Linked DNA regions of Homo sapiens: region 2 is linked to region 1. The links come from fine-mapping of genetic effects on gene expression. A gene starts in region 1. The other region holds a variant in brackets. All regions are shown on one strand. Distances are between the middles of the regions.

The links. PIP is the estimated chance that this variant, and not a neighbour inherited with it, causes the effect. A credible set is the group of variants that fine-mapping cannot tell apart.
Region 2: its variant is the best candidate, but not a certain one, in a credible set for the expression of RNF166 in skin (TwinsUK, PIP 0.73).

Annotation. Positions count from the first base shown.
Region 1 is chr16:88,704,935-88,707,946 of GRCh38, forward strand. RNF166 (ring finger protein 166) reads right to left here and starts at 1,474. Exons shown (of 6, transcript NM_178841.4): 1 at 1,237-1,474. The coding sequence starts at 1,391. It overlaps CTU2 (cytosolic thiouridylase subunit 2), which reads left to right and starts at 1,569. Exons shown (of 15, transcript NM_001012759.3): 1 at 1,569-1,664; 2 at 2,202-2,276. The coding sequence starts at 1,597. RefSeq lists an enhancer at 949-1,586 and silencers at 1,208-1,487, 1,528-1,837.
Region 2 is chr16:88,726,846-88,729,345 of GRCh38, forward strand. PIEZO1 (piezo type mechanosensitive ion channel component 1 (Er blood group)) reads right to left here. Exons shown (of 51, transcript NM_001142864.4): 23 at 712-816; 24 at 194-347; 25 at 1-113. Among named protein-coding and RNA genes, the nearest start is that of HSALR1, 3.1 kb to the right of the region's middle. The variant G/A (reference allele first, on the strand shown) is at 1,060.

The sequences.
Region 1 (3,012 bases):
AGCCGAGATGGCGCCACTGCACTCCAGGCTGGGTGACAAGAGCAAGACTCTGTCTCAAAAAAAAATATTCCCGTTCAGAGGCTGCCCCCCCAAAATGTCACGGCTAAGTGAGATGGAGGAGCAGGGGCAGAGCCTGTAGCAGCCTCACAAGAGAAGTAGGTAGAGCTGTCCCAGCGTGGGCAGGCGCCTGTGCTGCCTGACACAGGTAATGAAGGCAGCTCTGCATCCTGACACTGGCCCTGCCACCTCCGTGGGTGACCAGCACACATCCACCTAGCAGTCCCAGCTCCCTCTGTACCAGGAGCCCCTGAAGTCAGCTGACTTTGCTTGCAAAATGTTCTAGAGCCTCCTACCAGTCTGGGTGCACCCCCCTCCACTCCACCACCTCAGCAGCTTGGATGTCTGCGGGGAAGCCCTCCTGCTCTCTCTCTCCCCTGCCACTGCTGATTTTGCTCAAGAGCTGTATTATTCAGCACTTAGGAGGGAGCAGACACTGATCTAGGCTTCCTCCCAACGGGGCTGGCAGCTCCAGAATACTTGAGCACAGCTCCCCGCCAGGAGAGCCACGTCCTCCAGTTTCTGTTCCTGAAACACCCTGGAGGAGCCGGCTGTGAGCCCTGGTGCAGCTGGAAACCCCAGCAAGGTGGTCAGTGTCTGCTCCTCTGTGGACCAGCCTGCCTGGCTACTCAGTGATCGGTGTGACTCAAGTTCTCCTTCAAACAAAACTAAGAACATCAGACTCCAAACAAGCCCCTCTAAACTTTAGGGAACTCCTTTCCTCTGTAGTCAAAACAGGCAGACAGCGGGTCCGAACAAGAGTTGATAGCAAAAACTACAAGTTATTTATTTACAACTGCCCATTCCAGCCGCACAAGCCCAAATCCACCACCACTGGCGGAGCGGTGGCACCTGCTGCCCTCTGAGTACCGGAGCGCCCGCCGCAGCCGCCGGGGACCCCGAGCTTGGGCAGGGCCGCAGGTCGCCCGGTGAACCGAAGCAGCAGTCGGACCGGGCGCCTGCGGCTGGCGCGAAGGAGGCTGGGCGGGGGATGAACGCGCCCAGAGGGCAGAGGCGGCGCGGCACAGGGAAACCCGGACCCCACGCGCCCCGAGGCCCCGGCGCCCCGAGTCCCCGCGCGCCCAGTCCGGAGCTGCACCGGGGCGGCCGCCGGCCTCGCGACCCCTCCCGCGGCGGGGCACGGCCCCCTCCCCGCGGCCCCTGGGCGGGCGCGCTCACGTGTGGCCGCAGCTGCCGATGGCCACGGGCCGGTGATAGACCTCCAGGCAGATGGGGCAGGTGTACTGCGCCTCCAGGCCGCTGTCGCCGCCCGCCGGCCCGGCCGGCGGCTGCCGCTGCTGAGCCGAGGCCACCAGGCTGCGGAACATAGCCATCCCGGGGCCAGGCCCGCGCCGCCCGCCGCCCGCTGTCCTGGCCCGGGCCGGCCCGCTAGTCACAGCCGCTACTGCGCCGCGCTGACGTCATCGTAGGGCGCCGCCCCCAGCCGGGCTTCGCGGCCGTCACGGCGCCACTCCGACGTCATCGGGGCGCGCCCTCGCGCTGTCGCCGCCACAGTCTGCGACGGGACCCGGCGTGCCCATGTGTCAGGTGGGCGAGGACTACGGGGAGCCGGCGCCTGAGGAGCCGCCCCCGGCGCCGCGGCCCAGGTAAGAGCTGGCGGCCGGACCCGCCAGGCCGCCCCTCGCCTTCCCGCCGCACTCCTGCCCCGAAGGGTCCCGGCCGGGCTTGCTCCGGGAAGCCCCGCGTGGAGAGCGGGACCTCGCTCCCTAGCACTCGGGGAATGCCTGTCAAGCGGTGACGGCCACCTAGAAGGGGACTTACTCCACTGGCTCGCGCCTCTCATCCTAGCAGCCACTGGGGACGGCTCTGCCGCTGACAGTGCTGTCCTTATTCGGAGAGAACTGGTGCCGTGAAGCTGTCTCGCCTCCCCGTGTCAGCCTTGGGAGACTGAAAAGCGGCCTTTATGTGCCCCCTGAGCCGGCTTTTCTAGGCTAAACATCCCCCCAGAGCCTTTGTTTTTCTTGAAGTTTGGACAGAACACAAGCCTGGGTTTGTGTGTGTACCGAGGTGCCTTTCTCTGACCCAACTCAGGGTGAGAAACAGGAGCTGTCTCCCCAAAGCCCACTAGGCGTGGGGAAGATGTGATCTGTGTTTCTCTCTTCTCCCCCCTCCCATCTCCAAAGCCGTGAGCAGAAGTGTGTGAAGTGCAAGGAAGCGCAGCCCGTTGTGGTGATACGAGCCGGAGATGCCTTCTGCAGGTGAGGCCTGGAGGTGGCTGAGACCCTGGCAAACATGGCCTCGCTAGCAGACAGGATAGCCGCAACTTGTGATGCTTTGTTAATTCTTTTTAAAAACATGTACTTACTTTATTCCTGCTCCTGATGGGGTCCCTCGTGCCCCTGGTGTTGAAGTGGAGGCGAAAGCATTGGTTTCCTGCTTGGGAAAGTTTCCCATGAGCTAGCCACAGATCCCCTGATGAGGTTTCTGATGGAACTTATGGGGACAGTTGGAAGTGGGGCCGTGGTGTCTAGACTGGGATAAGCTGTAGGAGGACCAGGCGTTTGGGGGCAGCTGGAATACATCTAGGGGCGGATCAGAGCATCTTGGGAACTTGGCAGATGGTCTGGGTGAAAGTTTTTAATCTCGTGTGAGATGCTTGTTTCATCTGTGGCAGGATAGAGGCTTGGAAGACCTCTAGCTTTCCCCCAGGCGCTTGTCATGTCTTTCTTGGCTTGTAGCCATTGTATTGTTCAGTTGTTTCCACTAGACTCATAGCTCCCTGAAGGGAGGACCAGGTCTCTCTCCTTTTAGCCCTCTTAATTCCCAGTGGTGGTGCGTGGTTTTTTTGTTGTTGTTGTTGTTTTTTTTGAGATGGAGTCTCCCTCTGTCACCCAGGCTGGAGTGCAACAGCTGGAGTGCATGATCCCAGCTCACTGCAACCTTTACCTCCTGGGTTCAAGTGATTCTCCTGCCTCAGCCTCCTGAGTAGCTGGG
Region 2 (2,500 bases), 22 kb after region 1:
GGTAGCCCAGCCCGAAGATGCTGATGCGGGTGGCCCCCGTGACAAACACCACCACCAGCACCAGCCAGAACAGGTATCGGAAGACGGCCACCTTCAGCATGTCAAGGTAGGACCTGCCAGGCCGGAGCGTCAGGGCGGGCGCCCCGGCCACCCCTCCCAGAAGGTTCCCCGTGGAGGGTGACGTGGAACCCACCTGCAGTGGATAAAGTTGGGCACGGGGTTGGGCTCCCCCCGCAGCGGCTCCAGGCGGTCGGTGTTGACGCCAGCCATGCGCTGCCACTCCTCTGTGCGCTCAGCTGAGAACACCTGCCACTGCTGGGAGGCGCACAGCAGCAGGAGAAAGTCGCCTGCAGGACACAGGAGCCGCCGCTGTGCCACACGGGGACCCACACGAGGTGGGCACGGCGCATAAATCCCACCTCCCACCCCAGGCCTGTCGGCGTGCAGCCGCTGGGAGCGGACACACGTCTGCCTGGGTGAGTGGCCGGGTGTCCCTGGGGGAGCCCCGGTGTGAGGGCATCTGCACAAGGGCTGCCGTGCACACAGGCTGAGGTCTGCGTGCGTGCGTGCGAGGTCAGGGCCTGCAGGCCGCCATGTGCCTGACCACACCTCCGCCCGTGCACGCCTGTGTGCACACTTGTGAGCAGATTTGGGGGCGTGAATGTACTCTGAGGGTCCTCTGCAGAGGCGGGGGTGGTGGGGGGCACTCACTGATGAGGTTGGTGGAGTTGGGGGCCCGGAAGAAATCAGGCAGGTACAGCCACTTGATGAGTGCGGAGTTCATGGGGACGGCCCGGCTCCAGCGCCAGGGATAATCTGGGGGAAGGGGTGTCATGTCAGGAAGGGCCGGGCCTGCCTGGGGCCTGAGACACCCGGTCCCCACCCGTTGACCCGAGTCTATCACCAGCCCTCAGGGTCCATGGGAATCACCTCGCGCACACCTGGTGTCTCGAGAACTGACAGCTCTAGTGTCCTGTGTGTTCACACACACAGATTCCTTCAACTCTGCACCAAGCCCCTGGGGGCAAAGGAACTGAGCAGGAGGCCAGAGAGCACGGG[G/A]GTGGGGGCTGCTGGGCCTGAGTTGTGGCCCACACGGCGTCATATTCCATGATAGGACAGTGCGTGTGATAGGACAGCTCTGAAAACAACGGCCAGAAGCTGCACGGACGCCTGCAGCCAGGAAAAGTTCAACCTGCAGCAACCACAGCTGGGAACGCGCTGCTCAGCACGTGGGACCGGGATCCATGCGACAGCCTAGACAGACCTCAGTGTGCTCTGCCAAGTGAAAGAAGCCAGACCTAAAGGCCACCTGCTGGGAGTCCTGCTGACGTGGCGTTCTGATAGGACCACGTGCTGGGGATGGGAGCGGCCGGGGCCTGCTGGGGAGGGAGCCGTGGCACTGCCGGCCCCCGGCCACACTTCCTGGGAGGCGTGTGAGGCAGGGAGGGTCGGTCCCTAAGGACTGAGGGCATGGATGTGACTCCACGCATCTGCGAAACCCACAGCCCCATCTGCCACAGAGGGAACCTCGCGACACAAAAACAAAGTGACCCTCCATGCTGGGGAACCCAGGACATGCTGAACTCACAGCCCCATCTGCCACAGAGGGAACCTCGCGACCCAAAAGCAAAGTGACCCTCGATGCTGGGGAACCCAGGACATGCTGAACCCACAGCCCCATCTGCCACAGAGGGAACCTCGCGACCCAAAAACAAAGTGACCCTCGATGTTGGGGAACCCAGGACATGCTGATCTCACAGCCCCATCTGCCACAGAGGGAACCTCGCGACACAAAAACAAAGTGACCCTCGATGCTGGGGAACCCAGGACATTCTGAACTCACAGCCCCATCTGCCACAGAGGGAACCTCGCGACACAAAAACAAAGTGACCCTCCATGCTGGGGAACCCAGGACATGCTGAACTCACAGCCCCATCTGCCACAGAGGGAACCTCGCGACACAAAAACAAAGTGACCCTCCATGCTGGGGAACCCAGGACATGCTGAACTCACAGCCCCATCTGCCACAGAGGGAACCTTGCGACACAAAAACAAAGTGACCCTCCATGCTGGGGAACCCAGGACATGCTGAACTCACAGCCCCATCTGCCACAGAGGGAACCTCGCGACCCAAAAACAAAGTGACCCTCGATGTTGGGGAACCCAGGACATGCTGAACCCACAGCCCCATCTGCCACAGAGGGAACCTCGTGACCCAAAAACAAAGTGACCCTCGATGCTGGGGAACCCAGGACATGCTGAACCCACAGCCCCATCTGCCACAGAGGGAACCTCGCGACCCAAAAACAAAGTGACCCTCGATGCTGGGGAACCCAGGACATTCTGAACCCACAGCCCCATCTGCCACAGAGGGAACCTCGCGACCCAAAAACAAAGTGACCCTCGATGCTGGGGAACCCAGGACATGCTGAACCCACAGCCCCATCTGCCACAGAGGGAACCTCGCGACCCAAAAACAAAGTGACCCTCGATGCTGGGG